2 separate regions of the Homo sapiens genome follow, and region 1 is linked to region 2. The links come from fine-mapping of genetic effects on gene expression. Tissue or cell type: whole blood. Region 2 holds a variant in brackets; the other region holds the start of a gene. All regions are shown on one strand. Distances are from middle to middle.

What was found. PIP is the estimated chance that this variant, and not a neighbour inherited with it, causes the effect.
Region 1: LINC02019 starts here. The variant in region 2 is fine-mapped to the expression of LINC02019 in whole blood (TOPMed, PIP 0.98).

What each region holds. Positions count from the first base shown.
Region 1 is chr3:50,667,049-50,672,158 of GRCh38, forward strand. It overlaps LINC02019 (long intergenic non-protein coding RNA 2019), which reads left to right and starts at 2,391. Exons shown (of 2, transcript NR_183733.1): 1 at 2,391-4,128; 2 at 4,323-5,003.
Region 2 is chr3:50,646,024-50,651,199 of GRCh38, forward strand. MAPKAPK3 (MAPK activated protein kinase 3) reads left to right here. Exons shown (of 11, transcript NM_001243925.2): 8 at 117-241; 9 at 717-802; 10 at 1,100-1,180; 11 at 1,871-3,268. The coding sequence ends at 2,023. Among named protein-coding and RNA genes, the nearest start is that of LINC02019, 21 kb to the right of the region's middle. RefSeq lists enhancers at 1,055-1,554, 3,046-3,599, 5,055-5,176. The variant G/T (reference allele first, on the strand shown) is at 2,236.

The DNA of each region.
Region 1 (5,110 bases), 21 kb after region 2:
CAATAATGGGGAGAAATTCATGTTTGACCTTTAAGCAAGTGCAAAATGAAACAGATCTATGCCTTGGCAGCTGAGGACCCTGTGGCTCTAGGGAGAGTGGCTGTGAGCAGGGGGTTTGATGGTCATGGAGGAGAACTGATGCAATATGTAGTTCTCAGGGGTGCTGCATCATGGAAATAGCTTAGGGAAATCAATTTCTTTTGGTGTTAAATAGAGAGAAGAGGCTCATGCTGAGTTAAGTGCTGGCTGGTAAGAGGCAGACGCAGGAGGCCAGCCCAGCTGCGCAGGGGTGACCAAACCAGCTCTCGCAGGCTAGCTTGGAGGAGAAGCAGATTCCACAAATGCAAGGAGACCCAGCATTTCTGGGAAGCAATTTGAGCTGGTAGGAGGGGAGCAAGGTTCCAAAGTTTAGTGAGCATTTACCTTGTGCCGGGCTCTGTGTTGAGAACTTTGCAGGCATTATCCTCAGAAGCATCCCTGATGTAGAAGCCATTCTGATTCCCACCTGACAGGAAGAAACTCGGTTCAGAGGGATTAAGCTACTTGCCTGGGGTCACCCAGCTAGGAAGTATCTATCTGGAGCTGGATGTGAACCCAGCTCTGACTCCAGAGCTCTCAAGTTCTATTCCCTGTTGCTAGGTCACCTGAAACTTGAAAAAGCCTGAGGCTGTCAGTGGGCTGGAGTGACAGACTGGGGCTGGGACAGGCTGGGTGCAAGTGAGGTTTTGGCAGGGGCCACCCCATGATGAGTTCTCATGAAAAATTGCCATGGCTCCTGGAATGGCAGGTTTCTGAATCAGGATCACTTCTCTGATTGTTCCATAACTCATAACTGCATATTATAAATTCTGATCCATCACCCTCAATGCTAATTGGAGAACAGAATAGTCCCCATTTCTTAGAGTTGCTCTTCTTCAGTGGTGACAGAGTGAGTACTATTCCTGCTGCTCCCTGGGTCAGGGCCCTGCATGTTCCGAGTACAAGTCCTAAGGTGTGATCTTGTGAGAGAATTCTCTAAAGATTTCTCTTTTTTGGCATCCTGTATTAAATGTTCCTCAAGGAAGAGATTAGCAGTAATCCTTGATCAGATTCAGGGCCAATTGCTTGTTGGTGCCCCTGGCAACATTCTTTCCCTGGACCCTTAGCATGGGCAGGGGTGTGAGGGACAAGCAAGGTGTTGAGACCACAGCTAAAGCAGTGGGTCACAGAACCTGGAGAGTGGGCTGTGTAGGGAGGTAAGCTGTGCTTCCCCTCCAAACCCGGGAGATGAGCGCTGGAGCCTGGCACAGATGTGCCATCTTGAGAACAAAGGAAAGATTGGCTCAAGGAGGAGAAAGAAGCCTGGAGTGGTCCTGTGTGAGCAGTGGTCCTAGATGCTTCTGCACAGACTTTGTTGGTGCTCAGAGAATTGGGGAATGTGCAGTGGTGCCTCTGAGCCCAGGACTCAAGAGGATAGGCCTTTTCCTAGGCTGTTCCCTCAACAAGCCCAGGATCTCCTTGAGGGGAGATCATGTTCTTATTCATGTCTCTTATCTCTGCTTCTGACCCAAGGTCTGTCAATGGCTGGTTCCCTAATGTCATGGGACGTGGCAAGGCCCCAGCGGCTGCCCCTATCTTCCACTCTAGTCCGCACATTTCTCCCCACTCCCCACTTGCTCGCTCACACATCATGTCCTGGTCACACTGGCCTTTCCATTCCTTGGATACGTTAAGCTCCTTCTTCACCAGATTCACCTTTCCCAAATGCTGCTTGCTCTGTCTAGAACACTTTTCTCTTCTTTACTTGGCTAATTTGTATGTATTGTCAGCCTCCAGTTTAAATATCATTTCCTCCAGGAAGTCTTCCCTATTTGCAAACTAGGTCAGAATCCCTGGCTGAGGCTCCCTCTGTACATGTACCCTTTCTCTTTCTCTTCTTTCCTAGTACTTGTATCTCTCTTCGTTTTTTTTTTTTTTTTTTTTTTTTTTTGATGGTGTTTTGCTCTGTCACTCACGCTGGAGTGCAGTGGTGGTGCAGTCTTTGCTCACTGCAACCTCTGCCTCTGTCTCCCGGGTTCAAGTGATTCTACTGCTTCAGTCTACCGAGTAGCTGGGACTACAGGCACCCACCACCACACCTGGCTAATTTTTGTATTTTTAGTAGAGACAGGGTTTCGCCATGTTGGCCAGGCTGGTCTCGACCTCTTGGCCTCAAATGATCTGCCCGCCTCAGCCTCCCAAAGTGCTGGGATTTACAGGCGTGAGCCACTGCACCTGTCCTTGTGTCTCTCATTAGATATTTGCTTGTGTGATTATTGGTTCAGTGTCTCTTCTCCCAACTAGATGCTAAACTCCATGAAGAGAGGCTGGGTGCAGTGGCTCGCTGTTTTTTTTTTTTTTTTTTTTTTTTGCTCTGGACCTGGCCCATAATAGGTGCTCAATAAATTTTTGGTAAATAAATGATTCAAACTTTTTACACTTCAAGATAAAAAGTATGAAAAGCTGGTGGGGATAAAGTCTCGGTTCTTTTCCTAGCCCCAGTCCCATAGCATTTCAGAGATGGGGTAGGTGGTGCTACACTACTCAACAGGCTTTTGTTTTTTAACTCATTTAACTCAAGTGAGTTGGTGAAGGCATTCAATTGGTGGTTTTTTATGTATAGAGAAATTACCTCTGTCCTGATTTGGAATATCTGTGCTATTTTGGGCTGTTTTTCTCTTTTGGGCCTGTTTGTATTGTAGCAATAATTTCACCATTTGGCTATGCAGAGGCCCAATTAATATTACAAATGTGGTCCTATAAAATGTGCTTTTTGACATCAGAACGTTTTGTTGCTAATTACTCTCCAAGGTTTTTAATTTCAAGCCCTCCTTGGTGACTTAGTGCAGAAATTTAAGGACATAATTATTTCCCCCCAAGGGAAAAGAGATCTAGGTAATGCCAAGTTTCTATCTATTTGCCCTTCCTTCCAGGGGGTATCTTGTTTTTGATTCTATCTCCGCCCTTTTTCCTGGACAGAAAATAAACATGCAAACAAAAACCCTATTGGAACAAAAATATAAATTTCTGGAAAACATTAAAAGCACTCATTTACTAATGTATTAATTAAAACAATATTTACTGAGCACCTACTATGTGTCAGATGCTGCATGCTAGGCACTAAAAATAAAAAAGAATATAGCATGGTGCTGTCTCCAGGTAGCTCACAGTCAAGTGGGCAGCAAGCAAGTGCTGGGAATTCTCTGACACATCTGGAAACATCTGGGGGTGCTTCTCATGGTGGGGCTTATTCATTAGAGCCCATCCAGAAGTGCCACATCAGTCTCCACGAATTAAAATCAGGAGAGCTTTGGCCATTTCTCATTTGAAGACCTTGGCTAACTGAAAGAAATCCACATTTTAATAACATTTTGAATGGGTTGATAAAATAGGAACAGATGGTTAAAGTTTGTCATTTTAGGGAAAATAATGAAATATTGTACTGCTTAATCTGTCTTCCTGTCACACTCTTCCCTATCCCCTCCCTACTGAAAATATATTCAGATGCAACAAAACTTAAAGCAAAATACTAATATCTTCTTAGACACTTTAGGTCTCTTCACCTGAAAGTGCTCTAATTGTGTCAGCCATCTCTGTGTTAACTTTATCTTTTTTTTTTTTTCAGACACATTCTCACTTTGTCACCAGGCTGGAGTGCAGTGGAGCAATCTTGGTTCGCTGCAATCTCTGCTTCCTGGGTTCAAGTGATTCTCCTGTCTCAGCCTCCTAAGTAGCTGGGACTCCAGGCGCATACCACCATGACTGGCTAATTTTTGTATTTTTAGTAGAGACGGGGTTTCACCATGTTGGCCAGGCTGGTCTTGAACTTCTGGCCCCAAGTCATCTGCCTGCCTCAGCCTCCCAAAGTGCTGGGATTACAAGTGTGAGCCACTGTGTACAGCCTTTGTGTTAACTTACTTTGAATTAGCCCCTTATTCCAAAGCTGCCTCCTGAAAGGAGGCTTCCTAAAAGGTGTTGCTTTGGGGTAAATAAGAGGTGCTGGTGAAGTGAGACTAGCTTGCGCATCTCTCTGCCATGAAGGAAACTAGCTCCGCAGACGTTTTACTAACCACAGCAGACCCCCTCCTTGAGGAACCCAGAAGGGCAGAGGTAAGTTGGGTAACGTGTTCTTAAGTCTTCCATTTACCTGACCCTGGGGTTCATATGGGGATAAGCTCCAGCTGCTGACACCTTCTGATCAAGAGAAGGCAGAATGTCACCACTATCACCTGCACTTTGTTTGGATTTGCCTCTATACCCACTGCATTTCTCTGATGTTTTTTTCTACCATTCTGTTTGGACAGAGCATCAGATGAAATCAACTGCTGAGAGAGGGAAGTGAGTGCTGTGTTGGCACCGCTGCCAGAAACTCTTGAGAATGAGCATCGTGTGCCACTTATCCACTGCTTGCCGACTTCAGTAGCAAGAGCCTCCAGAATGCTCATGGATAAACATCATCTTTGTGGCCACACATTGTTTTATGAGCTGAGTCATCAGACTGGCTGGCTCCTTAAATGCTGCTGTGTGATTCTCTAGGCAGCAGAAAACAAGGAGAGAAGATATGAAGTGTATCTCATCGAGCTTTGTAGAGGGCCAGTATCATTCACCAAAGGTGATGGGGGATTTACCATTATGGAGTTTGCTTGTGATAAAAAATTATTGATCAACTTAAACTCTAAGAGAAAAAGATGATGCTGTCTGCATTTCTTGTAAATTATTTATAAAATTTGTTTGGGTATCGGCTATTTTTAACAGCCACCAGTCTTAACGAATTTCCTGCAGAAAACTTGATTCCTTCCTTGCTCATCGAGTTGCAATTTATCATCTAAGGTAATGAGTTAAACCCAAAAGTAACAGTGACATGATAAGTGAAACTGTTTGCATACTTTGTTTTTTAAATTGCTCTATCATGTTTATCTTTTTTATAGCTACTCAATAAGACATTGCAATGAATTTTTAATTAAAACCAATATGTCTATAACAAAGAAATTTAATTAATTAGAGTTTCTGAGTTTGCCGATTTGTGACTTGCTGAGGTAAACATCTCAGTTCTCTCTTCCAACCTATTTCATTATGGTCTCAGAAAACGTAC
Region 2 (5,176 bases):
GTATTATTGCTATGGTGTCTGGTTGTCTGTCTCCCCAGTCAGGGGCTTTTGAGGGGAAATGGGTCCACCCTGGCACTGCTCCCACCCTATGCCAAATGACTTACCCCTTCCCCCAGCCTTTGTGGCTTCCCACCCTTCTACTCCAACACGGGCCAGGCCATCTCCCCGGGGATGAAGAGGAGGATTCGCCTGGGCCAGTACGGCTTCCCCAATCCTGAGTGGTCAGAAGTCTCTGAGGATGGTGAGTGAACCTCTCTGTCCCAGCCTGACTCACCTGGCCCCTGCGGCTTTCATTCTGGGAAACATCACTTTGGTGTCAAACTGACCTGTGTTCAAATCTTGGCTCCCCCTCTTTCCAGCTATGGGACCCTAGGCAAGTCCCCTAACCTTCTTGAGCCTCAGTTTCTACATCTGCCAAACAGGCTCAAAACTTGCCTCCTCAAAACTCCCTCTAACTCCTATTCCTCATTCATATTTTCCCCTTTGAGGACCACAAACAAGGCTGCCCTGTATGAGTTATCTACTGCTGCTTAACCAATTATCCTGAACACTTAGTGTTTCAAAACAAGAAATAGTTGTTAGCTCACTCTTTCTGTGGGTTGGGAATTTGGGAGCACATGCAGCCCCTGCCCCAGCAGAGCTTGTGGTCTGTGGGGAAGGGTGGAGGGGCTGGCTCTGCAATCTCATCTCTCCCCTCTCTTCCCTGGCCCCCCTAGCCAAGCAGCTGATCCGCCTCCTGTTGAAGACAGACCCCACAGAGAGGCTGACCATCACTCAGTTCATGAACCACCCCTGGATCAACGTGAGCCCCTCCTCCTCCCATGGCAGGCAGGGTGTCCAACAGGAGTGGGGCTGCCGGGCAGGAGGGTGGTGGCTCTGCTTTGAGGCCCCAGTGCAGGGCTGGAATGGGCCCATGCACACAGGTAGATACTAGGGCCTCACCTACAACCTGGCTTTGTCACTGCCCTAGTGAGGCTCCTTCCCCACCCTGAGCCTTGGTTTTTCCATCTGAGTCTGGGAGAAGAGGATGGAGTAGGGGGAACCAGTGCTGTCCCAGGTGCCTCCAGTTTCTAATCCACGGGCGTGGGGCTCCTTCCAGCAATCGATGGTAGTGCCACAGACCCCACTCCACACGGCCCGAGTGCTGCAGGAGGACAAAGACCACTGGGACGAAGTCAAGGTGGGTGGGCTCTGCCTCAGTCTCAATACAGGTGCCAGGATTTGGGCAAAAGGGACTTCAGGGGGGTGGCTACCCAGGGTCTGGGGTCTTTGGCCCCTTTCTATACCTGGAGCACAGGGTGTCAGTGACTGTCGCAGTGGTCCAACCATGGCACTCCAAGGATTGGGCCTCACTACGCCATTCAGTGTGGTGCTCCTGGCTCACTTCCTCAATGAAACGGGGCTTTGGTACCAAGCTTGGATGATGACCTCTCTTATAACCAACAACATTTGGGAGGGTGGTCAGCCTGGTTTAGACCCAGCAGAGGCCACGTTTGAACATATGGAGTAGCAGCTCCAGTGGCACAATCTCCAGGCCCCAGTGCGCTGGTTGCCCAGCGAGATGGCATTCTCTGCAGGTCTTGTGGTTCTGTGGTGGAACTGGTTTAGTTCACTATCCCACTTACCCTTGGTGTGGTCCGAGGGAGTAACTCTCCTTTTGTGCCTTAGTGAATAAGCTCAGTGTCTACCACAGAGGACGGTAGTGAGGATCATGTGATGCAAAGGGCTTGGCCCAGTGCTGGGCACACAGTGGGCACAGAGGCAGCACAGGCTGTCACTGACATTAAGGGGCTGCCCAGGCAGGGGGGTGATGGTTCCTAAGGTCAGTACATCCTGACCTCTTAGTGCCCACCATCCTGTCTGTCCCCAGGAGGAGATGACCAGTGCCTTGGCCACTATGCGGGTAGACTACGACCAGGTGAAGATCAAGGACCTGAAGACCTCTAACAACCGGCTCCTCAACAAGAGGAGAAAAAAGCAGGCAGGCAGCTCCTCTGCCTCACAGGGCTGCAACAACCAGTAGCTCATGGGGCCTTGGAGGAGCCTGGCCTCTCAGCCTGCATAACAGACTGAAATGTGCTCAGGCCCTGGCCAGGAGGGCCCAGGGTCATTCTTTTAACAAAAGGATTATTTTGTTGTGTTTTAATTTGTCACTCGGAACTTCAGGATGGAGGACCCTGACCCTAAACCTCCTTCAGATCTCTGGCCCAGGCTCAAGCCCTAGAGATGGGCAGG[G/T]CCTAGGGGCTGGGAGCTGCCTGCTGCCATAGCAGCACCTTTAGCTAGGTTGGCCCGAGTGAGGCCTCTGTGCTGTCCTGCCCTGGTGCATGGCCTTAGCTTTCTAGGCCACTGGGAGTTGTGGCTGGGCTTCCCATCTTCCACAGAGACATCTCCCTGTGGGATGGGCAGATGGGCCTGGCCTTGAGAAAGGCATTGGCCATTGGTTGCCATGGTGACCAGGGACCACGTTGCTGCCTGTGAATGCTGAGTGAGCGAGTAAGGGAGGAGGGGCGATTGAGGGTTCACCTCTGCCTTGGGGAGGCTGATTTCTCACACACTGGCTGGCCCTCTCATTCTCACTCCTCCTTGGGCCCTGAGGCTGCTGGATCCGGTCTGCCTGCCTCCCTGTGCAGTCCAGCCCTGCCTTGCTGCAGCCCCAGCCCAGATGGCACTCAGCGCTCTCCCCTGAGGGAGTCCCTGGGCCTAGCCATCCCCTCACTATTCCCGACCCAAAGGGTGACTTTTCATCTGAACTTAAGGTGGGAGATATTTTTAACTTTTTTCCACTTTGGAAAATGTCACTGTGACAAAAGCCAGCATACTTTCCCTGCACCCATCTGCTCACCAGATCTCAGGCAGGAAAGCCCCTCTCTGTTGAAGTCAGGGGCTATCTTTTGGTATACTTGTGTGAAAGTGGCTGGTTGGGAGCAGAGCTAAGTGGCTTCCCATTAACCTGAGGTCTCTTTCTTTACTCTGGGTCAGACCTGAGGTTGGGGAAGGCGACTGAGCCATGCTCAGAATGTCTGGTCCTGGCTTGGGCCTGAGTAGGGCAGAGAGGGCCTTTCCTGGCTGATCAGAGCTTACCAGCCCCACCCCACCATGGTAGCCTTAGGGTGCTGAGTGCCTGATACTGCCTGACAAGTGCCTGACACGCAGCCTAGTTCCTTCCTGGCCCCTCTCTCACTGGCTGGGAAACCCTAGACCATGTCAGATAGGACAACACTGCTGGGTTTTACATCCAGATAGTAATAAACACCATTTCATCATTTTCTCTTGGCTCCTGGGTTTACTCTTTGTCTACAGGGGTGGACAAAGGTGGCCCAAGGGCAGCTTCTCAGACCCACTAGTGATTTCACCCCAGCTGGAGGGGGTGCCTCAGGCCTGATAAGCATGCCATGCTAACTCCAAGGCCAGAGTCCTCGCCAGGCCTAGAAAGGTCAGAAGAGCTGAGGGATGGCAGCTGCCACATGCCCCCAGCTCTGTGCTGCCCCTGTGCAGTGTGTGTGACACCTACCCCCGGTCCTGTGTGTGCCAGCATCTGCCCAGAGTGGCCACCCCCAGCTGTGTGCCAGCCTGCTGAAGGGCGGGCAGAGTGCCTGCTGCAGCGCTGAGCTATTTTCAGAAACTGCCAGATTTCATTTGGCAGTGAGAATATCGAGGAGGGGAGGGGGCGGCATGCTGCAAGACTGTCTTTTGACTACTCCAGTAAGAGAGCACTCTCACCCCTCCGGAGCCCTTGTGGGTAGCTTCAAGGAGGGCCCTAACTGTGGCATTTCTCTCCCAGCTCCTATCTTGAGAAACCTCCCAGTTTTCCAAGAGCTCATCTGCTGCCTGCAGCGCTCTCTCCTCCACCCCCACTTCCTTCAGGGCGTGGGGGAGGGTGCAGAGATGCTGGAAGGCAGGGGACAGGCAAACACGCCTGAGATGTTCTGCTGCTTCCCAGCCTGGTGACCTTGGGAGCTTTCTTGGCCTCAGTTTCCTCAGCTGTGTCCTGGCGATGATAATGCCCATCTCATGGAGTCATGTGGGGGATTTGAGCAGATGATGTGTGTGAAGTACTTAGTGAGGTGCCAGGTGCGTGGCTCATGCCCCACACTCATTAGCTACTCTAACATCCTTAGTCATCAGGAAGGAGAGAAGTATCTAGAGTTATATCTAGAGTATCTAGAAGTCTCTAGAAGAAAAAGCAGCCCCAAGTCTGCCTCAGGAAGGAGAGAATATCTAGAGTATCTAGAAGTCTCTAGAAGAAAAAGCAACCCCAAATCTACCTCAGGAACTTTCTATCCAGACAATCAGGGCTTCCTCACCCATGGGGTTTCATTTCCAAGGGCCTGCTCCCCAGAGCAGCATCATGTGGGCCTCCTGGGCTTTGTTTCCAGTACTGGGCTTCCAGGAGGGTAGCCAGATAAATTCAAGAGACTCCATGGAGCCTGTGGTTCAGCCCAGCCTTCCTAGTATACCCTACATTTGGAGGAATGCTGGCCAGATGCAAAGGTAGATGTAGTCCATCTAGTCTCAAAGCTGTGGAGGCACAGATGGCCTTCCTTGCTTGGCTGCCAAGCATCCAGTGTACCTGAGATGCTGTGCTGGGTGCAAGGAAGGCTGCAGTGAGAACTTCAGACAGGGAGTTCACCTCAAGGTGTTTACATTCATGCGGGAGAAGGTGAAAACATCACATGTTGAAAAATGTTAAATTGGCCGGGCGTGGTGACTCACGCCTGTAATCCCAGCACTTTGGGAGGCCGAGGCGGGCAGATCACAGAGTCAGGAGATCAAGACCATCCTGGCCAACATGGTGAAACCCCATCTCCACTAAAATATAAAAAGTTAGCTGGGCGTTGTGGCAGGTGCCTGTAATCCCAGCTACTCGCGAGGCTGAGGCATGAGAATCACTTGAACCTGGGAGGCGGAGGTTGCAGTGAGCCGAGATTACGCCACTGCACTCCAGCCTGGCGACAGAGCAAAAGTCCATCTCAAAAAAAAAAAAAAAGTTTAATCAAGGTCTTGATATGATCTGTGATGGAAGAACATGGTTCCAGGAGAAGGAGGTGTCATGGGACAGTTTGAGCCAAAGAGAGAATATATGCATCCCAGTGCTGGGAAAGGTGCCTGATAGGATACAGGGTTGCAGGCAGAAGTGCAGGGACCAGGGCCTCAGGGACAGAGGGTCTCCCTGCTC